Regions from separate parts of the Homo sapiens genome. Here all the other regions are reported to be linked to region 1. Evidence: microRNA targets listed by miRTarBase, many of them from high-throughput screens and not tested one by one. Region 1 holds a microRNA gene; each other region holds the end of a gene's coding sequence.

The links. Region 1 holds the annotated microRNA hsa-miR-6867-3p (CUCUCCCUCUUUACCCACUAG, at 2,269-2,289, opposite strand). A microRNA usually pairs through its seed, bases 2 to 8, with sites in the 3' UTR of a target mRNA and lowers its output. Matches are read on the target gene's strand: a 7mer-m8 pairs with bases 2 to 8, a 7mer-A1 pairs with bases 2 to 7 and ends in A, and an 8mer does both.
Region 2: the mRNA of SPIB is a reported target of hsa-miR-6867-3p. Seed matches in the 3' UTR shown: 7mer-m8 at 4,702-4,708 and 7mer-m8 at 4,318-4,324.
Region 3: miRTarBase lists UBD as a target of hsa-miR-6867-3p. The part of its 3' UTR that is shown has no 7-base or 8-base seed match.
Region 4: the mRNA of ZNF398 is a reported target of hsa-miR-6867-3p. Seed matches in the 3' UTR shown: 8mer at 4,008-4,015.

What each region holds. Positions count from the first base shown.
Region 1 is chr17:40,188,816-40,195,931 of GRCh38, reverse strand. It overlaps MIR6867 (microRNA 6867), which reads right to left and starts at 2,335; the gene lies at 2,269-2,335. It overlaps RAPGEFL1 (Rap guanine nucleotide exchange factor like 1), which reads right to left. Exons shown (of 15, transcript NM_016339.6): 5 at 6,954-7,066; 6 at 6,557-6,724; 7 at 5,401-5,498; 8 at 5,170-5,292; 9 at 4,438-4,616; 10 at 4,260-4,350; 11 at 3,669-3,719; 12 at 3,239-3,326; 13 at 2,942-3,006; 14 at 2,515-2,569; 15 at 282-2,268. The coding sequence ends at 2,144. RefSeq lists enhancers at 1,315-1,364, 989-1,489, 4,191-4,270 and a silencer at 4,391-4,450.
Region 2 is chr19:50,427,631-50,434,746 of GRCh38, reverse strand. SPIB (Spi-B transcription factor) reads right to left here. Exons shown (of 6, transcript NM_003121.5): 6 at 3,433-6,709. The coding sequence ends at 6,411. It overlaps MYBPC2 (myosin binding protein C2), which reads right to left and starts at 1,855. Exons shown (of 28, transcript NM_004533.4): 1 at 1,775-1,855. The coding sequence starts at 1,793. RefSeq lists enhancers at 1-476, 1,291-2,049, 6,099-6,388, 5,944-6,516, 6,517-7,090 and silencers at 2,399-2,618, 2,649-2,738.
Region 3 is chr6:29,549,249-29,556,361 of GRCh38, forward strand. It overlaps UBD (ubiquitin like modifier D), which reads right to left. Exons shown (of 2, transcript NM_006398.4): 2 at 6,267-7,102. The coding sequence ends at 6,632. It overlaps OR2I1 (olfactory receptor family 2 subfamily I member 1 (gene/pseudogene)), which reads left to right and starts at 1,159. Exons shown (of 2, transcript NM_001396058.1): 1 at 1,159-1,609; 2 at 3,977-7,113. The coding sequence starts at 1,604. The coding sequence ends at 4,918.
Region 4 is chr7:149,178,836-149,185,951 of GRCh38, reverse strand. It overlaps ZNF398 (zinc finger protein 398), which reads right to left. Exons shown (of 6, transcript NM_170686.3): 6 at 2,910-7,116. The coding sequence ends at 6,151. Among named protein-coding and RNA genes, the nearest start is that of ZNF282, 13 kb to the left of the region's middle.

The DNA.
Region 1 (7,116 bases):
GCATGCACCACCACACCTGGCTAATTTTTGTATTTTTAGTAGAGACAGGGTTTCACCATGTTGGCCAGGCTGGTCTCGAACTCCCGCCCTCAGGTGATCTGCCCGCCTCGGCCTCCCAAAGTGCTGGGATTACAAGCATGAGCCACTGTACCCCGCCACCCACATTTTCAAAGTCACTCCAGAACAGCCCTGCTCCTGACAGCACTGGGCGGCCATCCCCTCTCCCCTCCCTCAGCACTTCCACAGCCTCAAAGAAAACAGAATGGAGAACAACAGGCAGGTTGATTCATAGACTTTATCGGCTTCTTCTCCACCCAGCGGTTTCTGCAATGACAACCGCGCCTGTACAATACACATGGTTCACTCTGTTAAAGCTGCAGGGCAACGGGAGGGGGCTGGGGGTCCCTGGGCAGGCATCAAGGCTAGGGGTAAGCAGCAGCCAAGACTGGGCCAGTGGGTCCCAGTGTCCGACCCAGAGGGTGGTGGCAGCTGGAGTTCCAAGGCTGTTGGAAGGGGTCAGGAGGAAGGCTGGGAAGCCAGGGGCTGCAGGGAGAGGAGAGTGCATCAGCAGTAGCAGGGAGGGGGCAGGGAGCAGAAGGGGGCCCATGGGACACTGTCAGGGCAAGAGGGCATGGGACACAGCACCTCCTATGTCCATAGAGGATTTTTGCTGCAGGAACAAGACAGATCACTGTATAAAAGGGTCTGTACAACATTACCTATGATACAATGTTCACATATGATACAAGGCTCTTTCCCTCTTTGAGTTTTAAAAAATAAATGTACAATTCCAGAGCTTTGGGTAAAAAATATATACACCCTCATAGCAGGAGCAGCAGCTGCTTTTGCTACGGCTGTTGCTGTCTCTTCAAAAGGGAAAGAGGTGGTGCCAGAAAGAAGGGTGAGTCTGTGCCAGGAAACCTCACCCAGTAGCTGCCAGGAGCCCCTGCACCCCTCAGGCCTTGAGGCTGGTGATGGGAGAGGGAGGGGAGTAAAGGTAATAAAGGCCTTGCCAGAGTCCAGTGGCGCCTTTACAGTCTCTGCCATCCCCCTCCCCCACTTTGGGGCTGCCTGCCCCAGGTATAGGGATCCACCCCACCCCAGCTCTATGGGGAGGACAAAGGGAGAGTCAAAGAGAGAGGGACAGAGACCATGTTGTTGGTGTCAGACACATGAGCCAGAAGGGGGATGTCAACTCCCTCCTTAGCAGTTAGATATCCCAAAAAGCAGGAGTGTGGGCAGCAGACAACCCTAGCTCCTGATACTGCTCTACCCGAGCCCACTGCAAGGCAGGGGGAGGGTCCTCTAGGCAGCTGAGGCCTGTGTTTCCCTGAGCATCTTTTACCCTCTCATCAGAGCCCATCCCTGGACCTTCCAGAGGCCTGAGTGGGGGACTTGCAAGGGCTGATGGGTAACCCCTCCCACCTGCTGCTACTCCCTGCCCCAAAAAGCAGCTTGGCTCACAAGCCTGGGCATGCAGGGCAGCACGAGGAGCTGAGCAGGGAGTGTGGGGGTGGAGAAAGCACCCCGCACCATCCAGGGGCAGAGTAGACAAGGGTAGCACCAAACAGAAGGACCCCTCCCCAGCACACACAACATCCACCCTCAATTACCAGATGCACTCCTGCTCCCTAAAAGAAGACACACACACACACACACACACACACACACACACACACACACACACACACACACACACGGCAACATAATATTCCTGGGGGTCCCAGCCCTGACCAGGAAGAAGCTGGACAGGTGGTGGAGAAGAAGGCTGCCAATCCCTCCCACAATCCCACTCTGCAAGACAGAAGGGTGAGCAGCATTCTTTCCTGCTGCAAGAGGAAGTTGGAAGCTCCATCCCCAGAACAGATCTCGATGGGAGGACATAGAGGAAGGAGCTTTCTATCCCCTTTCTCAGAGGGGACAGGAACCAGCAAAGTGTAGTTTTGGCTTGAAGGAGCAATGGGGAGGGGACTTCAGCAGGATGAACAGACTTATGGGTCCAGGGGTAAATCCATCGACCTCTTTCCCGTGGAGCAGGAAGTTGCTCCACGGGAAAGATGTCAGATGTTGGTTGAGACATCGTGCAAAGTGCTTGAGTGCCAGGTGCCCAAGGATCTGGCGGGTCTGACTGGAGCCTCCACTCTCACTGACTGTTTGCCTCCAGCTTGTAGGAGAGCTCGAAGAGGAGGTTCTGGTTGTCGATGACCTGAAACTGGCGCACATAGGCCTTGGTCTGCAGGTGATTGGGGGATGCCTCCATGTCCAGGCCTAGTGGGTAAAGAGGGAGAGGCAGTCAGGTTCCCAGCTTCCCTTCTTCCTCTACACACACACCGGGCAGAAGATCAGGCTGTGGACTGAGACAGATGTTGGGCAGGAAGGCCTCTGCAGAGGCAAGGAGAGAATGGGGAACCAGCAAGTGTATGGAAATACACATCTGGACAGGGAGTTCTCCCCTGAACCCTCCCGTTCAGTCAAAGCTCTATCTGTACTGCTCTCAGTACCCTGGGTACTCACAAAGGGGCCGGCTCCGGTATTTGCGGATTGTCCTCACTTTTTCGGCCACTGAATGCTGGGAGATGACAAGGAATGAGCCTTGAAAGGGGCACAGAAAGAGGCTCCCCCTCTTATGCTCCCCCTCCGCCATTCTCCCACTCTGCTTTACTCCCTCCAGTCTCCAATTCTGGAGGGTCTCTGAAGGACCAAAGGAGTGGGTGTAACAGAGTGCCATGTGAGGGGGAGGTGAAGTTGCCCCCAAGCTGCCTGTCAGCTCTGCCACCTGTGGGTGGGTTGCCACAGTGATGCCACCAGGGAGACAGTCAAGAGTCTGTTAGGCAAGCTGGGCACTTGGAGGAAGGCTGCTATTTTTGGGAGGTGATGAGAGAGGGAGAGGATGCAAGCCCCCCACTTGTGGGACTAGGGGTTTGCAGTGCCACTCACTCACCAGCTTCTCGATGTTCACCAAACCATCTACAAGGGTCTTACTCCCTTCGTGCAGGAAAGTCAGGTCTAGGGGATGTGGAGAGAATCCAATGTGAGGAAAGGATAAGAGAGGAGTTCGAAAGGGGCCACTGCACCCGAGGACCCCGCTCTTCCCCAGAACCCACTCCGTCTGTGGTGGGGGGCTCCTCTCCAGGTGGGTACTCAGGGCTGAGTCGAGAGGGAGCTGGAAGTCAGAAGCAGGGCATAGGAGAAGGGAAGCATGGGTGGAAGCGGCACAGCTTGGGAGTAACTCTCTCACCTTTGAGGATCAGAGGCACGAAGGGAATCACAGGGGGCTTCATTTTGGAGATCACTTCTCGGTAGCTTTTGTGGTTCCTGCAGGGGTCCTAGTATTCCACAGGAGAGAGATCAAGGGACAGACTGGCCAATGCATCCCAAAGATGTCCTCAGCTTCCTCCCTCACCCCCTGCCTTGTATACATTCCTGATCAGATAGGGGTGCTGGGGGCTTTCTAATGGTGTGGTGGGGAGGGACCTGACTACTCCCCCTTTCCTTCAAGAAAAACAGGGGCGCAATCCTTCCAACCTCACCCTCCAGCATGGTAAGGAGGGTGGGGGGTCCCATACACTAAACACCTTGAAAGGAAAGCTTGAGGAAGGGGGTTTATGGGAACAGAGGGTTTCTGGGCTCTCAGTCCAAGAGCAGAAGAAAGAGCCAAACCCACTCACCGTCAGGTTCTCAAATTTGCGAAACAAGTTCTTGAATTTCCCTGGCAGCTTCTGCAGAGTTTGAAGGAAGGAGAAGGGATATCAGAGTGGAGCTCCTTGGGTTACATGGGAGCCTCGGATTAATTCTCCCTGTTGGAGGGCAAAAGGGCCTGCATGGCTTGTAGGGGGCTGGGAAGCTGGTGGGTGGGGAAATGAAGTCAGGCCTTGGCTAAGTCTAGAGGCTTGAAACAGCCCAGAGGAATTCATTATTCTGGGGAAGGCCAGGTCTGTCTTATGCAGGTGCTTTGTATAAAGATGCCCCCACTGAGTGTGGATGAAAATCAGCCCAACTCCCACAGCCAAGTCTGCGACCTGACCTGGCCAAGGGCTGCCTGCCGTGACTCAGGCGGGATCCGGGCTTTTCACTAATTTGCACAAAGACAGGGTCCATTAGCCAAGCTGTGCGCCCTGGGGTTGCGTATGCCAGAAGAGGGCGCCTCCCTCCAACTGGCGCAAAGACTCCCTCCAGGCCGGCGGCCGTCCCGGGAGGACGCACTTCGGGGAGCCCGGGATGCCCAGATTCCCAGGTAGGAACGGGAGGGGTCTCATCACCTCCCAGGTGAGTCGAAGGCGGCTGACAGCGGCGTTGTCCAGCCCCATGACCACGGCGTAGAAAGACAGCAGGTCCTGGTTCTGCTTGCAGCTGCGGGGGTGGGAGGCGGGGTCAGGGGCGGGCGGCGGCGCGGGCCTCCGGCCTCCGGCCCCCCATCCCGCCGACGGCCGCACTCACAGGGCCGCGATCTTGATGAACTTCTTGAGCAGCTGCGCGCGCTTGCCCGGGGCCTCGCAGAGCAGCACTTCGGTGGCCACCCAGTGCGTGACCTCGCTGCAGCGCTGCAGCAGCAGCTCCAAGTTGGCCGTCTCCCGGCGGCCGCGCTCCCCGTGGAACACGTAGTCCACGAACTCCAGCTGCACCCACGGCAGCGGAGGGGCGGCCAGGGCGCCAGGGGGTGAGGGGAGTGGGTGGGAAGATGGCAGTGCAAGGCGATGAGGAGCGAAAGGCAGGAGGGCGGGGGCGGAAGGGGTGGAAAATAGAAAAATAGAAAGGACAGGAGGCGGCAAAGATGCGGAAAAAGAAAACAACCAGCATTAATAATATTTCACCAGCTACTGAGCACTTACTAGGTGCCAGGCATTCGCTCACGGCTGACATCCTCAAGACAACCATCTGCTAGGCATTATTGTCTCTGCCTTATTTTATTTCTTTAATAGTGAATATTTTAAAAATAGAAATCCTGGGTCAGGTTCTGTGTAAACAGCACTTGGGCCCTGAGCCACTGTGCTCTGGGGTCTCTCTCTTTGCGATTTTTTTCAGATGGGGGAACAAAGGTTACGGCCATGCGTTGCCCAAGGGCTTGCTGCAAGTGAGCCTTGGAACCAGGACGTTGTGCTGCGAACACCGTCTCCCAATGGCACATTTCTCCCTCCAGCCCCCCAGCATAGCACCAGCCTCGGTCCCCACCTCATGCACACATCGGAACAGCTCCCAGTGGAAGGCAGTTAGGTGGTTGGCAACGTCCTCAGGCTCCACTCGGTGGATCTCTGTGTCTCCAGGGGAGACCTGGATCTCCTCGGGGAGGGGCACCTGGTGGCAGGCAGGGGCATAGGGGCTGGGCTCCTGGTGGCAGGGTGAGGGATTGCTCACAGCCCTCCTCAGCCCTCCATTCCAGTCAAGGCCTTGGGAAGTTCTTACCAGAGCCTCATAGCTGTCCCGAGTACAGGCAAACAGGTGGCTGTTGATGCCCAGTGCGGTGAAAACACAGTCCTCAGTGGGCTGGAGAAGGACCTTCTCTGCAGGAGAAAGAGCTGCTCATCCTCGGCCCCTGCCGCCTGCACCCTCACACATCCCACACTGACACTGTCCTATCCAAAAACTCCTCACCCCACACTGACACATTCTAGACTAATGGAACTCATCTTATCACTAGTTTATGCCATATTTATCTGGAATTTGTCAAATGATTATTTCTTTTGCATTTATAACTTTTTTTCTACTCCCTTTCTTTCACAGCTTTTCTCTTACTCTGTTGTCCTTGTGACACTGGGAAGGCTGAAATTTTTTCCTACTGTAGAGGAAAACAAAGCTTCAGTGACATTGCTGGCTTTCTGCCTTCCCACTCATCCTGTGTCTTTAGCCTGTGAAATGTGGCATCCTTACATACACAGGGAGGTTAAAGGATCAGAATACAATCCATAGGTGAGTGAGGGGCAGCACTCAGATCAGAACCTGAGTCCTAGACCAGTGCCTCCCAAACTTTTTTTTTTTTTTTGAGACGGAGTTTCGCTCTTGTTGCCCAGACTGGAGCACAGTGTCTTGATCTCGGCACTGCAACCTCCGCCTCCGCGGTTCAAGTGATTCTCCTGCCTCAGCCTCCCAAGTAGCTGGGATTACAGGTGCACACCACCATGCCCAGCTAGTGCCTCCCAAACTTTAGTAGGCATAGGAGTCCCCTGGGGGGTCCTGTCCAAATGCTGATTTGAACAAGACCAGCAGGTCGGGGTGGGGTCGCAGATGCTGCATCTCTTTTAGAGACAGAGTCTTGTTATGTTGCCCAGGATAGGGCGCAGTGCCTATTCACAGGTGCAATCATAATGTACTACCTTGGATTCCTGGGCTCAAGCAATCCTCCTGCCTCAGCCTCCTGAGTAGCTGGGACTGCAGGTTTGCACCACTGCACCCAGCAAGATGCTGCATCCTAACAAGTTCCCAGGCGATGCACATGAGGCTTGTCCCGGGACCATACTTTGAGTAGCAAGGGCCTAGAATTCAGTCTCTACCCCTCCCCCAGAGCCCTGAGCTTGTGAGTTTCTCCTCTCGGAGCATCAGCCCAGTTCTTCCTGACCCTCACCTCCAGAGGAGGACACAGCTACCAGGATGAGGGAATCCTCACGCCCCGCGGGCTCCTCTGAATATTGAAGTTTCTCCGTCACAGAGCCCAGAATGTCCTGCACAGATGCTGAAAGGCGGCTGCGTATGGTCACATAAGAGTGGTCAGGCATGTATACACGGCAGAAGACTGGACGGAAACAGGAAAATGGCTTTCAACAGAGGGCAGAGTGGCAGCAGCTGGCACAGTCTCCTCCAGGGTGCCTCTATTCCCCACCAGAGGCTGGCCTCTGAAGAAGGTCCTGTGAAAGGGGCTGGTTCTACCACCCAGGGAGATGCCACTGAGGGTGCTCAAGACCCAGAGATATGTCCCCCTGAGCCACTCAGGACACCCTGCCCCTCCTAATGCCCACACTCACTCTCATCAGAGCCCCGGAAGGCCACCCGGGTCTGCAGACAGGAGTCTATCCGGCGGAAGTGGCGGAAGAGTGGCTTCACCTGCTTGCTGGGTGGCTGGTTCTCCTCTGGAATCCTGGCATGGACACAGCTGGGCATCAGCACGCCCTGCCAGGCATATGGACA
Region 2 (7,116 bases), not on the chromosome of region 1:
TACAGTAGGGGCTGGACCCACCCCACAGCCTGCTTGGCCTGATGCCAGCGGACCAGACATCCCAGGAGGGGGTCCGCCCAGCGGTGCATGATTCCTGCGGTGAGTTCCTCATAGAGAGAAAGCCTCATCTCCACAGAAAGTGTTCCCCATTCAAAGAAGGTCCCCAAACCCCGCAAAAAGGACCCCATTCCCTGCATGAAGAAGCCCCGCTAATTCCTACACGGGGAAGCCTCAGTGCCCACAGAAATGAGGCTCCCCCATCCTTAATACAGAGACTTCCCCTGTGACTCCATGCAGATGGGAACCACTAATCTTTATACCCACAATCACCCCATATCCTACAGAGAAGGTCCCTTGGAATCTATTTTTTGTTTTTGTTTCTGTTTTTTCCCAGCAGGGTCTCGCTCCGTCTCCCAGGCTGGAGTGCAGTGGCAAGATTTGGGCTCACTGCAACCTCCGTCTCCTGGGCTCAAGTGATCCTCTCACCTCAGACTCCTGAGTAGCTGGGACTACAGGCACACCCCCACAAGCCCAGCTAATTTAGTATTTTTTGTAGTGACGGGGTTTTGCCATGTTGGCCAGGCTGGCCTTGAACTGCTGGGCTCAGGTGATCCACCCACCTTGGCCTCCCAAGGTGCTGGGACTACAGGTATGAGCCACCGCACTGGGCCATTTTTGTTGTTGCTGTTGCTTGTTTTTTAGAGACGGGGTCTCACTCTGTCACCCAGGCTGGAGTGCAGTGACGTGATCACAGCTCACTGCAGCCTCAACTGCCTCCTAAGTATCTGGGACTACAGGCATGCACCACCACACCTGGCTGATTTTTAATTTTTTGTAGAGACAAGGTCTCGCCATGTTGCCCAGGCTGGTCTTGAACTCCTGGCCTCAAGCAATCCTCCTGCCTCGGTATCCCAGAGTGCTGGGATGACAGGCGTGAGCCCCTGCACCTGGCTCCCTCTGAGTCTTCACTCAGAGAAGTGGCCCAGACCCTGCCCAGAGGATGCCATCCCCGGATGTGGAGAATCCAGTCACATGCAAAGACCTCCCAGTCTGGCCGGGCTCGGCGGCTCATGCCTGTCATCCCAGCACTTTGGGAGGCTGAGGCGGGTGGATCACCTGAGGTTGGGGGTTTGAGACCAGCCTGGTCAACATGGCGAAACCCGTCTCTATTAAAAATACAAAAATAGCCAGGCATGGTGGCGCAGGCCTGTAATCCCAGCTACCCCAGGCAGGAGAATTGTTTGAACTCAGGAGGCGGATGTTGTAGTGAGCCGAGATCGCACCAATGCAGTCCAGCCCCGGGGGCAGAGCGAGACTCCATCTCAAAAAAAAAACCAAAAACCAAAAAACAAAAACAAACAAAAAAACCCAGTCTACACACACAGACCCCCATCCCCATCAAGCAAAAGGAACCCAATTTACAACCAGAGAATCCCATCTCCACCAGAGATGCCCCCCCAATCACTTATAGAAAAAGAAACACCCTCCCTGCTGAGTGAAGGGGATCCCTCACCCCACACAGATATGAGACCCACCCCATCTCATACAAGGAAGGAAACTCCTGTCACAAAGGGAAGGGACCCTCTTCCCCATGCAGAGTCGAGACCCTCACCCTAAACTGATGCGGGAACCCCCATCCCGCACAGCAAAGGGAGCCTCCTCCTCACACAGCGAAGGTTCCTCCTTCTCCCAACCCTACAAACAGAGGGGTCCCAAATCCCCATCCAGAAAAGAAGAGCCCCATCCCCACACAGGGAGGGGGTCCTGGCGCCACCTGGTTTTGCCTCAGGCATGTCGGGGGACCTCCTCCTGCTCCTCTGACCGCAGCCGCGTCCCGCTAGGCCCTAGGGAGGACAGGTGGGCCCCTAAGGGGAGCCTTTTAATGAGTCCTGAGACTCCCAGAAGGCTCCGGGAGACATCAGACCACAGGGCCGCCCCACATTCCGCCCGCATGTTCTAAAGGGCGAGAAATAACAGCTGGACCTAGGGAGATGGCTGAGAGCCAGGTCCCCAGGGAGGAGGGGCTGGGGCTCGGACACCTGGGTCTGAGGGAGGAGGGGGCTGGGGCTCGGACTCCAGAATCTCAGGGAGGAGGGGACTGGGTGCTTGGACCCCTGAGTCTGGGAGCAGAAGCAACTGGGGTCCCAGATTCTTGGGTTCCCTAGAAAGGACGAGCGCCTGGACGCCTGGGTCCCGGGAGAAGGAAGAGGAAGAGACTGAGGGTCTCAAGGGGGTAAGGGCTGCGGGCCAGAGCTCTGGCATGAAGCAGGGAGGGGAGGGACAGGGTCTAGGAAGCCATTCTTAGCATCTGCAAGTCAGGAGTTTTCGGGAAACCGGAGCCGGGAGGGAGGGTCCGGTTTCCTAGCGTAGGCAGGACGGCGGCGGGGGGAGGAGGTCCCTGCGCCTCCGGGGAGGGCGCCGCGGCTCTGGGACTCCGGAGTTTCGCGCCCCGGGCGTGGGCAAACCCAAAGAGCTGGGGCCCCGGCCATCTGGGACCCCGGACTGGCCGCCGCCCCTCCTGGGACCGCTCCCCGCGACTCTTCCCGGAGCGGGCACGGCAGGCACCGGACGCGGGTAGGGGGTGGGCGTCCCCGGTGGGGGCGGGTGGGAGGCTGGGAAGGCCCTGGAGGGCTGCCCGGACGTTGGCGCCCTTCCCGGCAGGGGGACCTGTGACTTTCTGAATGGGGTGGCTCTGGACGCGGCGGGGAGCCGAGGGGGCGGGGCCTGGGGAGGGGCGGGGCTTGGGGACACCAGGTGTTGTGGGGAGGAAGGAGGGAAAGGGTGTTGGGGACTTAGGGTTAAGGCTGGGGGACTGCCTGGCTAGTAACGCAGCGTGAGGGACCCGGTGTGAGGAAAACAAGTCCCTCCGCTTTTTTTTCCTGTTCATCTTCCCCCTCCTCCTTTTCCAAAACCCCCTACGAGCCGGAAATTTCTCCGCCTCCGGGGAGCGTCCAGCCAATCCGGCGTCAGTTCCATGTGATGTCACGGGTTGCCAGGCAGACTGCCACTGCGCTCCCGCGAGCCCCGCTAAGTTGGGGAGGGGCCCAGGCCTGCAGTGCCGCGGCCACCTGAAGCCTCGCGTCCCTCGCTGCCAGCCCGAGGGCTCAATTCAGAGGGAAGGGGACAGACACCCAGACGGAAGGGGAAGCGGGGAGGAGGTGGAGAACTTCAGTTGGCAGGAATAGAGGAAGACATAAACGGAACCCTCTGTGCCTGCGCGTCAAGCCTCTTATTTCTCGGCATTAAGGTTCAGATAGGTTTTGCTGTATGGTGTCTTTGTGATTTGTTTGTTTGTTTTTGAGACAGGGTCTCGCCGTGTCTGGAGTGCAGGGGCACGATCACGGCTCACTGCAGCCTCAACTTCCTGTGCTCAAGTGACCCTCCCACCTCAGTAGTTCGGAGTAGCTGGAATTACAGGCATACGCCACCACACCCCGCTAATTTTTTATTTTTTTTGTAGACGGGTGGGAAGGGGATCTCACTATCTTGCCCAGGCTGGTTTCAAACTCCTGTACTCAAGCGATCCTCCTGCCTTGGCCCCCCAAAGTGTTGGGATTACAGAGCCACCGCGCCAGCATATAATTCTCTCTTTGAACTCCTCTCATCATCACCCGTGATGTCACGGTGTCTCTGAGAGCCAGCGGCCTCAGTGGAGGGGCAGGATTGCAGTCCCTGACAAAAGGTCCCAGGAGGTTTGTCTACGTCGATGCATCTTATTTTATTCCACATTTAGGGTGACAATGATAGCTTTTGTAAAAAGTACCTTCCCCGTTGCAGGGGGCCCTGGGGAGGACGTTTTACCTGCCCTTCCTCCCTCCCCCTTCCCACTCATTCTCTTAAGGGCAGGTCCCAGCCTGGGCTCTGCCATCAGCTGCTGTGTGCCTCCACATGGACTTCTCGTGTCTCTAGGTCATTGGCATTCCTTCCTCCTCCTCCTCCTGGGAGTGGGGTGGATTTCAGGCGGTGTCAAAGGCTCAACGGGGCTGCAACAGTTTTTTTTTTTTGAGACGGAGTTTCGCTCTTGTCGCCCAGGCTGGTGTGCAGTGGTGTGATCTCAGCTCACTACAACCTCCGCCTCCCAGGTTCAAGCGATTCTCCTGCCTCAGCCTCCCAAGTAGCTGGGAGTACAGGCACATGCCACCACGCCCAGCTAATTTTGTATTTTTAGTAGAGAAGGGGCTTCACTATGTTGGTCAGGCTGGTCTTGAACTCCTACCTCAGGTGATCCACCTGCATCGGCCTCCCAAAGTGCTGGGATTACAGGCGTGAGCCACCGCACTGGGCTGGAAAGTCTTTTTGAGATCTTCCTCCTCCTTCTCTCCCTTTTTCACAGAAGGGACAAACTAAGGTTGGGAAGCAGCAAGTCATGCACCCTAGATCCACCTGCCCACCCAGGCTCAAGGACCTCTGGCCTCTTGGCCCGCAGCCTTTGACTCCCTGGGGGTCCCAACCAGGGCTCCATAGTCCACCCAGGCTTCAGTTCCAGCTGGGTTTATACAGTGGTCTAAAGCCAACAGGCTTGAGAAGCTGCTAGGGTGAGATAGCCAGGGATGGCAGCGACTGGGGCAGATTGGAGAACAAATGCCTCATTAGGAAAGGCTACTGTCCTGTTCCAGCTCCCCACCCCCCACCGAAAACTGGCCGACTCTCTCCAGACCGTCCAAAGTTTTAAGTGAAGGCAGAAATCTGGATTATGCAAAGTCTCCCTATTTTGAATGGTCTGCTGTTTTTGTTGTTTTTATTTTCAGACGGAGTCTCGCTCTGTCCCCCAGGCTGGAGTGCAGTGGCACAATCTAGGCTCACTGCAACCTCTGCCTCCCACGTTCAAGCGATTCTCTTGCCTCAGCCTCCCGAGTAGCTGGGACTACAGGCACGTGCCACCACGCCCAGCTAATTTCTGTATTTTTAGTAGAGACAGGGTTTCACCATGTTGGCCAGGATGGTCTCGATCTCTCGACCTCGTGATCCGCCTGCCTCGGCCTCCCAAAGTGCTGGGACAACAGGCATGAGCCACCGTGCCCGGCCTTGTTTTTGTTTTTAAGACGGTGTCTCACTCTGTCGCCCAGGCTGGAGTGCAGTGGCACGATTACAGCTCACTACAGCCTCCTACTTCCTGGGCTCAAGAGATCCTCCCACCTCAGCCTCCTGAGCAGCTGGGACCACAGGTGTTCACCCCCACGCTCGGCTAATTGTTTTTGTTATGTTTTGTAGAGACGAGGTCTCATTATGTTGCCCAGGCTGGTCTTGAATGCCTGGGTTCAAGCCATTCCCCCTGCCTCGCCTCCCAAAGTGCTGGGATTACAGGTGTGAGCCATTGCCCAGCTGATGGCCTGCTGTTAATGTGGATCCCTCACACCTCCACCACCAAGTGCTACAGTGCACTAAAGAGACCACCACCAGCGACCGGGGCCTCGGTTGGGGGGCAGGGGGGTGACGACCTTGAGACTTCTGGTTAGAAATGACATGGGTGGGGAGCTGCCATGATCACCCAAAATCAGTCGCGTGGCCAGAGTGGTCTTCAGCATGGCCATAGGGAGTGGCACTAGGAAGGGTAGGATCCCCATGAGAACTCAGTCTTTGTGGGGTCCCTGAAAGGGCATATCAGATGGAGAGCCTAGGAGGTCTCAGATGTGATTGGAGGATCCCAGATATAACAAGGGTGTCCCTGACAGGGCCCAGACATGACACATTTCACTGACTCCCCATCCTCCACCCCAGACCTCTCAAGAGTGATTTCAGACATGACAAAAGGATCTTGGAGGAGCCCTAGATGTGATTGGGGAACTCCAGACACATAAAAAGGGGCAGCAGAATAGTTCCAGAGAATTGGGGGATCTCAAAAATGAGGGGACAGATGTGACAACACAGCCATAGATGGGCGAAGAGATCTGAGATGATAACAGCTCCCAGAGGGCCCCAGACATAACTAGGAAATCTCAGATCTGACAAGAGGGAACCTTGGACAGGGCTCAGGGTTGCCAGCAGGGCCCCCACCCCAGATGAGATTCAGGGTTTACAGACACACAGCGATCTTAAAAACGTCCCAGGCCTCACTGGGGAATCAGATATCACAAGAAAATCCCAGAGAAGCTCTTGGGATTCTGGAAGAACTGCTACCCTGCCTCCCCGAGTATAGTGGTCCATAGGTCCTGTCACCCAAAACATGAGGATCCCAGGGAGTCTGTACATGACAAAGAAATCCCAGAGGACCCCAGGCACAAGTGGGGAATCCCAGACAGGCCCGGGCTGGGCTTGGGGATTATGGCAGGGCAGCACTCCCCTTACCCCAAAAGGTGGGGATGCGTAAGTCCTATCACCTAGAGTGTGGGGACGCCCTTTTTCTTCCAGGGGGATCCTGGCTGGGACGTGAGGTCCCCCAGCGGCTCCGCAGGTGGGAGCCTCGGGTGTGCTCAGGCCCGGCGGACTGCAGGCAGCAGCGCGCTGTCGAACTGGTAGGTGAGCTTGCGCTTGACCTTGCGGATCTCGCCGGTCTTGGCGTAGTTTCGGAGGGCGCGCGCCAGCTTCTGGTAGGTCATGCGCTTGCGGTTCCCCTTCTGCTGGCCCCAGCGGCGCGCCAGGAGTTCCTTGTGCTTGGAGGAGAACTGGAAGACGCCGGCGCCTGGCTCCACCCACCACACGCACTCACGCATGTCCCCGCGCGTCAGTAGCCCCAGCAGGAACTGGTACAGGCGCAGCTTCTTGCGAGTCCCTGCGGTGGGGTCGGGGGCACGCGTTAGGTGAGGGGTCCCTAAGGCCCCGCCTTCCCCATCCACCCTCCTCCGAGACTTCCACCCCGGCCTCCATCTCCTGGATCTGAAAAGTGGGGTGAGGGAAGTGGCTGTTACATACACCTGGCTCTGCGCCCCTCACCACGGGGGGGGGGGGGGGCAAGCCACTCCCCCTGCCCGAAGCTGTCAGCCCCAGGCCCCCTCCGCGTTCTGTGCTTTAATTTTCGAGATTTACATCTGTCCTGCCTTCCGCCCTGCGGCCAGCACGTAATATTCCATATTTGTTGAGCTAGTGGATGAAAGAATCTGTGAAATGGGTTGACAGCGCCGCTTAAAGGATTATAACGGAGAGGCGAACAGATCTGGAGGCAGTTGCATTGGCCTGGCT
Region 3 (7,113 bases), not on the chromosome of region 1:
ATTCCTAGCAGTATCAGAAGAAAAGGTGGAGTCCCATATGTGAGCACAGATGCAAGTAGGTGAACAGATGGGTTAGTAAGAACTTCTCTTTTTATTGCTTTACATTTTTTCAGTAAAAAATGAAGTAAAATTTTTATCTGAGAAAGATGATATTATTTGAGAGAGAGGAGTACTGGGGATTTGAGGGGAGACCAGAAAGTATGCATGAGTTACGTAGGAGAGGGGAAAGTGAGTGGACTAGGAAAATATGATTATCAATGACATTAGCCCCTTCCTCTTAAAGTAGTGGTCATGAATGTAAAGTGAAACCTCTCAGTGTGGCTATTGGCTTTCCTTCGGCCACAGTCAGCTGAACAAATATAGGGAGAGAGTAGGACTATAGTTGGATTTAAATAGGAAAGCAATTTAGCTGAAAGAGTGTAACAAGTGAAAAGGGCAGGAACATTGATGTATGCAAAGGAGTAATAGTGATTGACGAGACAGTCTAAGCTTGATAGAGAACTGAAGATACAAGGGGCGTGAGGGGCCACGATGAATTTGCGGACCTCTCACTGAGGAAGAAACTGAGAGGAAAGTATAGAAAGATAATCTATGAGGATACTGAATTCACCAAGAATCATCACAGTACTGGAGAGAGTGAGAGGGGATCAGGGACAAAAATCTTCAAGGACGAAGGAGGAGCAAAGGGAAAGAGAATGATGAGAGCCACAAGTGGGGAGGTGGACTTTGGAGCAAAGCTGATGACATAACAGTCAAAGCTACATTCAAAACTAATAATGACTTCAACAAATCTACAAAATTCCTGACAGAAAGGGTTATTTTCCTTGTTTTACAGATGATGACATTGAGAGTCACTGAAGTTAAACAATTAGCTTAAGGTCACTCCATCAGAGAATGAAATTCTAAACCAGTTCCAATTGAATAGTAGAAATATTAATGAGAGGGAATTACGCTGCCTTTGGCCTTCATACACTGCCAGAGGCACACTACCCTAAAGGGACTTTCCCTCCAGAATTTCCTCTTCCCCACTCTTGGGGACTCCTCTCCGGACACCTTCATGCAAAGTACTAATGATAGGAGTGGGACATCTATTCCCCAGAGCTCCATCCTCTCTTCTAAATAACAGGGAACGTTGAGTCCCCTGTTTTTTCTCTAGTGAGAGCACTCATCAGCATGCTTCCTCCTCTCTAACTGTGTCCTTTAGATCCAGGAGGGATATTTGCTACCACCACCAGCTAATGCTGATTTGCTACCAGCACAAGGCCCAGGTCCTTGTCTGGTCTGTACCCCATTACAAGGTTCTCCAGGAACAGACATCACCACCTCTGCCTAGATCCTGAAATTTCACAAATGTAGGTTCTTTCTTACCCGTTCTTTTTATTCCTCTATTTACAAGCACAATGACACCCACCCCTCGTCTTCTTCCTGAAATACCTGGCTCTGATCCCAGGCATCCATTCCAGAAATCAACACAGCTATGCAATTGCATCTTTTATTAAATACTCCCAACTCCATTTCAAATCCAGAGAATCCAGAGCAGGAGCAAGAGACCAACCTATCATCTGGAAACTCAAGGTGTAAACATTAGTGCCAAAGATTAGTCATGAAGGTAAGTTGGGTATTACAGTGCCCTACAACAAAATGGTCTTGTGCCGAGAGCCACATTCTGAAATACCAAGTGAAGTTTGATGACACATTATATTATATATTTCACAACAGATTTGTCTTCTAGATGTGTGAGGGAGATGATGGGTTTATGTGTACAGGTGCACACATGCCTATGTTTTGGGGAATTTGTGCATACATGTAACAAGAATGTTATCTGTGCAGTTTTATTATTGTGTGCCTGTTTTCATGGTGTGGCATATTTGAAGAGGAATGGTTTAGAGCTTGCCAGGCTGAACAGTTATGTGTCCGTGTAATCACCGCATTAAAGAATTTGACCTTTTGTAACTCAACATCTCTAGCCACCATTGGTCTGTAAGCCTGAATGTCACCTCTCCTACTTTATTCATCTCTGATATGACCCCAAATTATAAAATGATCTATAAATATAGGTAAGACTTTGCATGTCCTTTCATACTCCACAGTCTCTAGCACAGTGGATCCTGGTTGATCAAACAGGAAGGACCTCGAAGTTAGTCAAATATAAGTGGAAAACCTATTAAGCATTTACAAATAATGTGGCCTTGGGCAAGTAATTTAACTTCAGTTACTCTCCTAACATACTCTATAAAATAAGGCTATTGCCTAATATTCAAGTGAGTTAAGATTAGAGTTAATAAATGAAAAGAGCTGTAAATGTTCATAGCAGTTGTATCACTGCCTAGCATAAGAACCCCTTAAAAACCTGTTTCTTAATTTGGGAAACAGATATGACGATAGTTAGCATTTATTAAAGGATGACAGTTAACAACTGCTATGTGCCAGGCCTTGTTCTAACAGCTTTTCATATTTAGCCCACTTAACATATTTCTATTTTCATATGAGGAAACTGAGGCAGAGAGAGGCTAAGTAACATACCCAAGGTTTTCCAGCTAGAAAATGGCAGAGCCAGGACTCAAACCCAGGCAGTCTGGCTGCTGAGCCCTGGTTCTTAATTATGACATTAATGCTTATTCTGCCCAGTGAGGATAAAATGAGTGAAACATAAAATCAAACAGGATGTTTTGGTAGGGAGCAGTGTTTTTTCCCTCTGAAAAATGAAAAATTAGGTTATTGTGATTTTGTAATTTACAGCAGTGAATATGATGTGAAAAATAAGTTATCCATATAATAATTTATGTCAGGAGTCATGCAGCAGAAAGATTTCTGTCCATCACGTAAACTTTCATCCATTACATAACCCATATGTTTCTGTACCATTAAGACACTTGGTTCAACAAGACCCTTGGAGAATGAGGTTCCTTTTGTTCCCTGGGGTTCTCTTTTTATTTTATTTTTGGATTAATATTTGATAGTAAAGCCAAGGATTTGGGACAGGAAACTTAGATGACATCTAGTTCAAACTCCTTGATTTACATATGAAAAAATTGAGACAGAGGGAAATGAAGATTTCCCCATATCATATAACTGGCTAAAGGGAGCTATGTAGGTAAAACCAAGATGTCCTGATATTCTAGTCTACCAGAAAGTGTTCTTTTTTTCTACCCAACTTATTCCTGATTTAAAGGCTAGTATACGTGTGCTGATCTCCCCTCAGTGGGAGGGGCATGGACGTTGGGAGTAGTCTCTATTCACAACAAATTAAAAATCAGTAATCAGCCGTATAATGGGTTGTGTTAGAAAGTAAACTAAGGCCCAATAAAATATTTAAGAGTTTATTTGAGCAGTGATCCAGAAGTGGCTAGGGAGCTCCCCAGAGAGAACATGAGGAGGAGGCTTTTTAGGACAAATAGATAAAAGCAAAGATAATATTTCATTGGTTACAGTTATACAGTTACACAGTTATACAGTTGCCTTATTTGGTCTATCCCATGAGGAAGTCCTAGTTACTAATTACGTTTTTGTTGGCTGCTTCTGATTGGTTGAGCTTAAGTTCTGTGTTTCTTTAACATAGGCATTTACAAGAAATACCACAAATAAAGTTTCAGACATGCTTGCAAATCAAGCAAGGTTAAGGTCACTTAGGAGGCCCAACTGGCTCTGTCTGCTCAAGGATTCTTCTGGCCTCGTCTCCATTTTACATGAACTGTTGCATAAATAAACACAGAGTACCTGAAACAACGGAGGTGATCATTCTGCCTACCGAGTGTTGGCCAGGCCAAGCTTGGAGTGTTGCTCTTATTCTTAGGGAGTTTATTTTTAAGTAATCTCATCTGTAAATGGGATTACAATCCACAAACTGACCTTGTATATGATTCCATTCCTTCTCCCAGCCCAGCCCCACACTCCAAGGTTTTCCCTTTGCTTATAAGGGGTAGTCACCCTTTTTTATTTCGACCTTCCAAACATTCTGGGAGTTTTCCTCCTTTAGGCCAACTACAGCGCAGAGGAGCGCTTTCTCCTGCTGGGTTTCTCCGACTGGCCTTCCCTGCAGCCGGTCCTCTTCGCCCTTGTCCTCCTGTGCTACCTCCTGACCTTGACGGGCAACTCGGCGCTGGTGCTGCTGGCGGTGCGCGACCCGCGCCTGCACACGCCCATGTACTACTTCCTCTGCCACCTGGCCTTGGTAGACGCGGGCTTCACTACTAGCGTGGTGCCGCCGCTGCTGGCCAACCTGCGCGGACCAGCGCTCTGGCTGCCGCGCAGCCACTGCACGGCCCAGCTGTGCGCATCGCTGGCTCTGGGTTCCGCCGAATGCGTCCTCCTGGCGGTGATGGCTCTGGACCGCGCGGCCGCAGTGTGCCGCCCGCTGCGCTATGCGGGGCTCGTCTCCCCGCGCCTATGTCGCACGCTGGCCAGCGCCTCCTGGCTAAGCGGCCTCACCAACTCGGTTGCGCAAACCGCGCTCCTGGCTGAGCGGCCGCTGTGCGCGCCCCGCCTGCTGGACCACTTCATCTGTGAGCTGCCGGCGTTGCTCAAGCTGGCCTGCGGAGGCGACGGAGACACTACCGAGAACCAGATGTTCGCCGCCCGCGTGGTCATCCTGCTGCTGCCGTTTGCCGTCATCCTGGCCTCCTACGGTGCCGTGGCCCGAGCTGTCTGTTGCATGCGGTTCAGCGGAGGCCGGAGGAGGGCGGTGGGCACGTGTGGGTCCCACCTGACAGCCGTCTGCCTGTTCTACGGCTCGGCCATCTACACCTACCTGCAGCCCGCGCAGCGCTACAACCAGGCACGGGGCAAGTTCGTATCGCTCTTCTACACCGTGGTCACACCTGCTCTCAACCCGCTCATCTACACCCTCAGGAATAAGAAAGTGAAGGGGGCAGCGAGGAGGCTGCTGCGGAGTCTGGGGAGAGGCCAGGCTGGGCAGTGAGTAGTTGGGGAGGGGAGAAAGTATTAAGCCAGAACCCAAGGATGGAAATACCCCTTAGTGAGTCAGTTTAGACTTCAGGCTGTTCATTTTTGTATGATAATCTGCAAGATTTGTCCTAAGGAGTCCAATGGGGGATATGTTTTCCTCCCGTGAGGAAATGTTTAGTTCTTGAGGGAAAATCCCTAAATCCTCTATATACTCAGGTTTAGGGAAGGAAAACCTACCCCTCACAACTCCACGCGCAGGGAAAATGATGGACGTGATGCTCGCCTTTAGCTTCCTCCCTATCTGATGGAAGACCATGGAAGACCTCTTGGTCTCTGCAATCAGAAGTCTCAAGTTGACAAGAAAATCATAGTCCCTACCCTGCAGGAGAGGGTACATCCAGAAAAAGCGACCATGGACTCTATTCTCAGAAATCAGTCCAACTTAGTGCAGACCTGGCCAGATGACCAGTGCCCTCCCCGGGGCATTTCACCCATAAATGTGATGAGGAAAGCCCATAAATGGTGGTGAATTTTGCTGAGTGGGGTTAAGACTGGAAACCCCCCTGCAGGAGTTGGTTCTTGAGCAAGTTTTAAAGAAACAAGGAACTAGGATGAGTGTGGAAGAAGGCGGGCACGTCTCAGCCCGTGAAAAAAACTCACAGGTGATCAGTAGTGAGTCATGAGAGAGAGAGCAAGAGAGAGAGTCAGAGAGAGGAGTAAATGGAGGGAGGAAGATGGAGGAAGGGACTCAAGTTCTCAAGACAGGAACAGGGATCTCCTCATGAAAAAAAGAAGAGAGGAAAATGCTCAATCAGCAGAACCTGAGCAGAATATTGAGGTCAACCCAGAAGCCAGCTCCTCACCCACCCTCACCCAGACTGGCGCCCTCATCCTGGAGAAGACCTGCTAGACCCTAAGGCAGGTAGGAGAGAGGGTGGTCCACAGTCCCCCAGCTTTAGAAAGTTTGTTCGCTCCCAATGTCCATCTACCCCTAGGAATCCCCACTAGTTAAACAGAATTGCTAGATCCCTGTGGAAAATACCTTTCCTTGCCCACCATCATCCCCAGAAATAATAACTATTTTAGTTGGGTGTGAGACATAGAGAATAAAAGGGGGCATGGTGCCAGACTTCATTTCATACAAATAGCTTTAAAGGAGAAGAGGGGGGAAGGAGTTTAATTTAGTTTCTAAAATGTTTAGTAATTTGATTGTGATCATGTCAGAGCAACTAATTCATTTTATAAAATATCATTTCACTATGCTCTATAAGTAGAAATTCAATTTGGTTCAACCATTATTGAGTGATATAAATAAAGCACTGGACTTAACAAAGACAGAAATACAGAAATCAGTAGAACATGGATCCCAACCTAAAACTTACTCTCTTGTCATAAAGGAAAGGAGATAGGAGTTTTTGCATAAATAACAAGGTATCAAGACAGAATTAAATTCCAAGCTGGCTTTGAATGCTCTATTTTGCCTTAAAAATTTATTTACTAGTCTCAGTAATACATTAGTAAAAATCATGTCACTTAATTAATTGTGTTAGAATCAAAGAAACATAGAGTTGGGCAATATACTTCATCCTACCCATCCCACCCAAATCTTACTCTACTCATCTCATTCTCATTAATTTTGGGAAATCATCAGAAGATGTGTTCGTTGAGTAAGAGATTAAAAGAAATAAGCTTTTTGACCCCTGCCAACACCCCATGCCCAGGGTGGTCACCCTCCAATACAATAACATGCCAGGAAGAGTAAGTTGCCCTTTCTGATGCCGTAATCTGCCATCATCTTCCCATCTTCCAGTCTCTTTCCATTGCAAGTCACAATCTGGGTCTCAGGGATTATACCCGTCTTAGTCTCGATCATTGCTTTCACTTGTGCCACTGAGCTGGACCTTCGCACCTGGAGGAGGTGCCTCTTTGCCTCATCACCTGACTCCACAAGAAACAAGGGCAGCTCCTCATCACTGGGCTTCACCACTTTCAGGGTAAGGTGGATGGTCTTCTCTTTGTCAATGCCATAAGATGAGAGGCTTCTCCGTGGCTTTAAGATCTTGGAGCCCAGCAAAAGAACCTGGTCCTGCACAGGAACCTTGGTCTTAGACCGGACATGTTCTTTGATTTTTTTCACGCTGTCATATGGGTTGGCATCAAAGGTCATTAAATCCCATTCCTCGGAACGGACATGCACCTGGGAAGTGA
Region 4 (7,116 bases), not on the chromosome of region 1:
AAAGTAAAATCTTAAATTCTGTAATTTTGTAATTGAAGGGCCTTTTCCCCAATTCTGGCAATCCTACTCCAGAATAAAGGAACTTATATTACCATGTTGTTCAATCTTCACATTAGAGAGAGGAAAATAACATCTTTGTAAATTAGGTAGTTTGCCCCATACAAGTAGAGAATGTTAAGCAAGGACCATCATCCACTTTTTAACTCCTACTTCTGGTGGTCTTCATACTATATGATCATTCATTGAGCAACCATGTGCCTAACAGCATGTGGCATCATGAGGAATACAAAATAATACATGGCCTCTGTTCTTGGGTAGCTTAAGTTTTAGACCAGTTTTAAGATTTTACAGTAAATACTAGCTTTGCTAGTAAACATAAAGCCACATAGCTCAATGAGGTTTTATTATTTTATGGATTTTTTTTTTTGAGATGGAGTTTCACCCTTGTCACCCAGGCTGGTGTACAGTGCCGCAATCTCGGCTCACTGCAACTTCCACCTCCAGGGTTCAAGTGATTCTCCTGCCTCAGACTCCCGAGTAGCTGGAATTACAGGCACCCACCACCACGCCCAACTAATTGTCTTTTTAGCAGAGATGGGGTTTTGCCATGTTGGCCAGGCTGGTCTCAAACTCCTGACCTCAGGTGATCCGCCCGCCTCAGCCTCCCAAAGTGCTGGGATTACAGGCATGAGCCACCATGCCCGGCCTTTATCAAGTATTTTATTTGAAATGTAACCTGGGAATTTTTGAGAGCATTGCAGGACACTGTTTTTGAGGCATCTCTGGGCTGGAATATCTGCCTTCTTTGATGGGAGGATGGTCTCCTTTTTTTTTTTTGAGACAAGAGTCTCGCTCTGTTGCCCAGGCTGGAGTGCAGTGGCGCGATCTAGGCTCACTGCAAGCTCTGCCTCCCGGGTTCACGCCATTCTCCTGCCTCAGCCTCCTGAGTAGCTGAGACTACAGGCGCCCACCACCACACCCGGCTAATTTTTTCTATTTTTTAGTAGAGACGGGGTTTCACAGTGTTAGCCAGGATGGTCTCGATCTCCTGACCTCATGATCCACCCGCCTCGGCCTCCCAAAGTGCTGGGATTACAGGTGTGAGCCACCACACCCGGCCAGGAGGTTGGTCTTAAGGGTAAATTTTTTTTTTTTTTTTTTGAAGAGGCAATTTAATTGACCAAGTTGAGAAAAGTCATTGTGAATGTGTGTATACATGATTGTGGCCAGTTACTCATTTAAAAAGAAACTAAAACAAAGCCAGAAGGAATAACATCCTAGAAAGTGACAAATGACTCCTGCAAGATACATAAACCTAACCTTCTAGATACATACACAGAACCTTCCATATTGTTTTCTGCAAGAAACAATATGCTCTGGCCCATGATACTTCTGCAGAGCAGCCTCCGTTTTTGGCAAATTCACTTCAAATTCAGCCCAGCTTTATGACCCCCCGTCTGGTTGGTCCTGTAAAATCTGATAGCCGATATACTGAACACCTCCTGTGAGCGTCCTGTGTTACATACTACATAGGTTTCCCCTTGAGCCTTAACACCTCTGAGACACAGGTATTATTATCCCTATCCTATAGATAAGGAAACTAAGGCTCAGGATGGTTAAATAATACATCAGTTATCTTACTTACGATGTCAGGACTTGAATCGAGGACTCCAGAGTCCCTGCTCATAACCATTAAGCTGTACTAACATACATGATGTATTGTTGTTAAGGCCCTGCACACTCCCTGCCCCCACCAATTTGATCTAACTTGAGTATCTTTTGCTTGTAAGAGTCTGAAACATTTTAAAACAAAGAACGGACCAGGCACGGTAATCCCAGTACTTTGGGAGGCCAAGGCAGGCAGATCACAAGGTCAGGAGTTCCAGACCAGCCTGACCAACATGGTGAAACTCCATCTCTACTGAAAATACAAAAATTAGCTAGTTGTGGTGGTGTGCACCTGTAATCCCAGTTACTCGGAAGCTGAGGCAGGACAATCACTTGAAGCCAGGAGGCAGAGGTTGCAGTAAGCCGAGATCGTGCCACTGCACTCCAGCCTGGGCCACAGAGCCAGACTCCGTCTCAAAAACCAAAACCAAAACCAAAGAACAGCCTCTGTGTATAAACCCTGTGAGAAATGACTGCTCCTTTGCTACAGATAAAGAACTGGAGCTAGGCCAGGCAAGGAGGCTCACACCTATAATCTCAGCTCTTTGGGAGGCCTTGGCAGGAGGATCACTTGAACTTAGGAGTTCAAGACCAGCCTAAGCAACACAGCAATACAGTGAGACTTCTCTAAAAACAATTTTTCAGCAAAAACAAACAAAAAACCAAGACTAAAGAGAACAGGGTTAGAAATATCAATCAGGTTGCCGGGCGCGGTGGCTCATGCCTGTAATCCCAGCACTTTGGGAGGCCGAGGAGGGTGGATCACAAACTCAGGAGATCGGGACCATCCTGGCTAACACGGTGAAACCCCATCTCTACTAAAAATACAAAAAATTAGCCGGGCGTGGTGGCGGGCGCCTGTAGTCCCAGCTACTCAGGAGGCTGAGGCAGAATGGCGTGAACCCAGGAGGCGGAGTGCAGTGAGCCGAGACCGTGCCACTGCACTCCAGCCTGGGCAACAGAGCAAGACTCCGTCTCAAAAAAAAAAAAAAAAATCAGGCACAAAGAAAGAAAAAAAAAAACATATTTGGTGACATCAGAGGTCCTTGTCCGTAAGAAAATATTTTTGAGAAAGAAAGATGCTTTTGTTCATGGCTACTGAGCTGCCCTCAGGCAGTCACTGAGGATGCTTTTTGTAGTTTAAGAAGCTAAGACATGAGAGGAAGGGCAGGAGTCCTGCCCCTCCTCAGAGAAAATCTGAGCAGAAATTAGGGATTCCCATTCCATTTGGAATGAGGTCCTTTTTTTTTTTTTTTTTTAATATCAACGAGGCTTGTGTGGACTGTTATTACCGAGTAAGTCACAGGGTCTGGTCCTGGTTGAGATAGACATGAACATCACTTCTCAGATATGCTCAAGAGAAGCCCAGCAGAGCCCCACACCTTCCCCGCTAATAGGAAACTTGCACACATTATTAATGAAAAGGGAAGTAGGAGTTTCCAATACTAAATGTTCAGCAGAAAAGGAGCAGGGCCATCTTCTTGCACTTTCTAGACAATCAACCAACTTCCATTTATTTTCACAACTGTGGCTAAACCAGAGGTTCATCCAATGGTGACAATGGAAAACCTAGTAAGCAAAGAGTAAATCTGGTTATAGTCAACACCTGGATCCACTCTAAGGGAATGGTGCTTATGTGTGATAGTGACAGCTTCTTGGTCCAAAAGGCTGACAGATGAAGAGCACGTTTCTGGGGTTTCCCCTTTCCTATCTTGTCTGGTCATGACAAGCAGTTCTCATGTATTTCTTTAACTGAAGTGTTAAATTGCATGGTTTCTCTCAGGAGCACTTGATAGGCCAAGAGTTTCTCCTCCACACTTTCTGTTGGACACCTTATCCTTCCCACTGATCCATTTTACTTACCCACTTTTGAATCTTAAGCAAACACTCTTTGGAACTGGCCTGCAGTTCTAACTGATAGGGGATTGATGAAAGAAAAGAGTAACAGTTGAACTCTCTTTTATTCTTGGGCTGAGGCTTAGTATCGCACCTGCTTCCGTCTCTCTGGGATGGCCTTGCACATCGCCTTTCGTTCCATCTGAGGGCTCTTCCTTCATTCGTATTTGAATTGTGTTCACTTTTTGCCAAAGTTTAGGTCCCTGCTGGCTACACAGTTCCTTTCAGAAGGGACTGCGGGATCTATCTGCAGCCATTTCAATCCACAGGTCTCTTTCACTAATAAGCTGTGTTCTTGGCAAATCTTTGAGTAAAAAAGTATTTAAAGTGTTACCTAGTCCCACATCTCACCTACTTTAGGAGTCCCTCCTCCAGCATACCCTGGCAAATGCTTGAAATCCACTCAGAAAAGGGAACTCAGCACCTAGACAATACTTTGGCTCTTCTCCCTTTTCACTGGGGAAATCAAGGTGCAAACTAGAGCTGAATCTCACATTCAAGTTCCTAGTGGGTTGCCAATGAAGCCAGAACCTTGGCTTTGGGATTCCCAGCACCCCTAAATTTTCCCATGGTATAGGTCCAGATTCTGGCTAGAAAGCTCTTAATCCCAATATGCTAGGGTATTGCCCATCATGTCTTGTTCTGTATTATTGGGCTTTTTCACTGTAAGTTATGACAGCAGACACACATTTCTTGTGTCTCCCATGGTCCCTGGTATTGTGAATGTCATGGAGCAGATGTTTTCTAAGTGTGATTATCCTACAGAGCAACATGTTCAGACATAGCCTTCCCAGAAGCAAAGTTAGCTGGGCTAACACCTTCTTCTAGTGTTGTTATGCATAACTAGAGAGAGTGAAGGATGGGCTAGGTGATGAGCAAAAAAATGGGTCCTTTCCTTATCACTTCATCAAGAAAATATCCTGTCTAAACATTTCCAGACCTTGTTCTAGACCTCAGGAAGAAGCAGAGGAAACAAGAGTATAGGAATAAACCAGTTTCCTGCCCAAGATGTAAGACTTCTGCATTCTGTCTTCTACCTCAGGATTCCAAGTGGGAGTAAAACAACAAATCAAATAAATTTTAGTCAAGTTTCAACAAGAATTTATCTGCTTTGACTTTGCTGTCTTATTTAGCTTTGCCTGGACAGAAGCCAAAGACAGAGACAGAACTTTGGCAGGAAAAGGAATGTATCACAGACTTTTTTTGAATAATTCCTAGAGGCTCACTTTTTTTCCTTTCAACAGCCTCATTGTGCAGATGAAAATTTGAGATCCATAAAGGAAACAGAACTTAGGCCCAGTTGCAAAGCCACTTAGGAGCAGACTCAGATGCTCCCAGGTGATTAAATCACCCCAAGAAAAGAACATGTGGTAGTCAAAGTCCCTAAAAGCAACACAGGCAAGAACAAACTGTTGTCTATGCATGGTGCTTAGCTCTCAGTGATCTAGGAATTTCCTCAATCTGTCCACTGCCAATGGGATACAGCCAGATAGGGTGAACATACACTCTCTCTGATGGCTCAAGGAAGCTGCATTATAACACTGTTATCATCTCACTACTGAGGACCAAGAGTTCACTGGCACTTTCTGAAGCTCCATGCTTCTGGAAAGTGCTGTGATCTTTGTTGCTGATGATTGTCAAGAATATCAGACACCAGGAATGGAGAAGCCAACTTACTGGCTTGGAAAAGATAAGAATTTGATGTGAACGACTCTCAGAACATGGTGTAGGCACAAATTTTAAGCTGTTCTGTCATTGTTAAGCCAGCTATTTCTCTGAGATCTCTAGCTTTTAAAGCTGGGGCTAAGAAAACCGTTTCCAATTTTTTTAACCAGGACCTTGGCAAAGATTTCTGGCAGTTTAAATGGCAATAAGAGCCTGTTTCAAATCAAGCCAGTATAGTTAAGGAATATTCTCCTTAATAATCTTTTAAAGTCAGATTTCTTGTTCAACCAATATTAAACAAAATTTATGTGAATAATTAATCTAAGAAACCTAGGCAGGCAGTCTTGAGTTACCATGTTTCAGGGAAAGACAGCCACAGAGGTGTGTGAACAGATCTTGGCTGGTTTTGAGAGAGGAGGCAGCAACATAAACAGTGGCTTAAGCACTTTCTCCAACAACCATCTTAGCTATCAAAGAACTAATAAAAGGCTTTATAGTTAAACATTCTCATGCCTTATGATGGGCTTCCAGTTTTGGAGGCTCTTCTCATGTATCTGTCTCTACCTAGAGACATAATCTACTATCAACCTGCTGTTCTCTGAGAACAAGAGAACTAGAGGTTAAATCCTGCTTTCCAACCTCTCCGCAATATTCTTGTAACTTCTGCTTTTGTTGTATCTTTGAAAAGATGGACATGCTGGGCTCCTTTCCAGGTCTTTCTGGGTTTCAAAATGTGGTATTCTTGTAAGGGTGTGAAATTCCAAAACACAAGCATGTCTCTAGTCAAGTGTATAGGACCCCAAATTCATTGATGTGCCAGATAATAATTACTGTGGGTGTTGGATGGGGCTCACAGACCTTCTCTTGGATTTTGTGCCCTGCTGTGAGCATATACAAGCATGAAGCCACAGAGATTTGGATTTACAAAACTCCCCCTCCACTCCCTTCCCCATACCACTGGTTGGTCTCTAGACCTTCAGTGTTGACACCCAGGCCAGAAGTTTCAAGCCCAGTTATGAGGGGACCTGGTGGGTTGGGTGGCTGACCTGATGGGTCACTATCACCCCCACAGCCTCCATTGTGGCCTGAACGGAGGTGGTCCTTGAGTGTCTGTTTGTAGCGGAAGCTCCTGCCACAGTAGGAGCAGGGGTAGGGCCGCTCCCCGGTGTGGATGCGCTGGTGTTTCATTAGGTGGTGCTTGCGGATGAAGCTCTTGCCACAGTGAGGACAACTGAAGGGCCGCTCGCCTGTGTGCAGCCGCCGGTGGTTCAGCAGGTGCTCCTTGCGCATGAAGCTCTTACTGCAGTCAGTGCAGGGGTAAGGACGCTCGCCTGTGTGGATCATCTGGTGGCGGATCAGGGCCGAGTGGCCGTTGAAGTCAATGCCACACTGAGGGCAGGAGAAAGGGCGCTCTTGTGCATGACCCCGCTGGTGGAGCAGGAGGCTGATTTTCAAGCTGAAGCTCCTGCCGCACTGGGCACAGCGGAAGGGCCTTTCGCTTGCATGAGCTCTCCGGTGGCTGGTGAGTCGAGCCTGGTCAGCAAAGCGCTTGGGGCAATCAGGACAGGGGAAAGGACGCTCAGTGCTGTTATGGACCCGAAGATGGTAGGTAAGTCTTGATGGGTGAGTAAAAGTCCTGGCACAGTGTGGGCAGGTGGGGGGTGTCTCGCTGGCATGGTCCTGGGAGGTGCTGCTGAGGTCCGCCTGTGGAGTAAAGTGCTTAGGGCACTGGGCACAGGGTAAGGGGTGCTCAGTAGCATGGCTACATTGGTGGGTCAGCAACATGTCTTGGCTGAGATTCTTGCCACAGTGGTGGCATGAGAACACCTGCTCGCCAACTGGAGGTGGGAGGGGATAGCTACCCAACTGAGTAAAAGTCACTTGTCC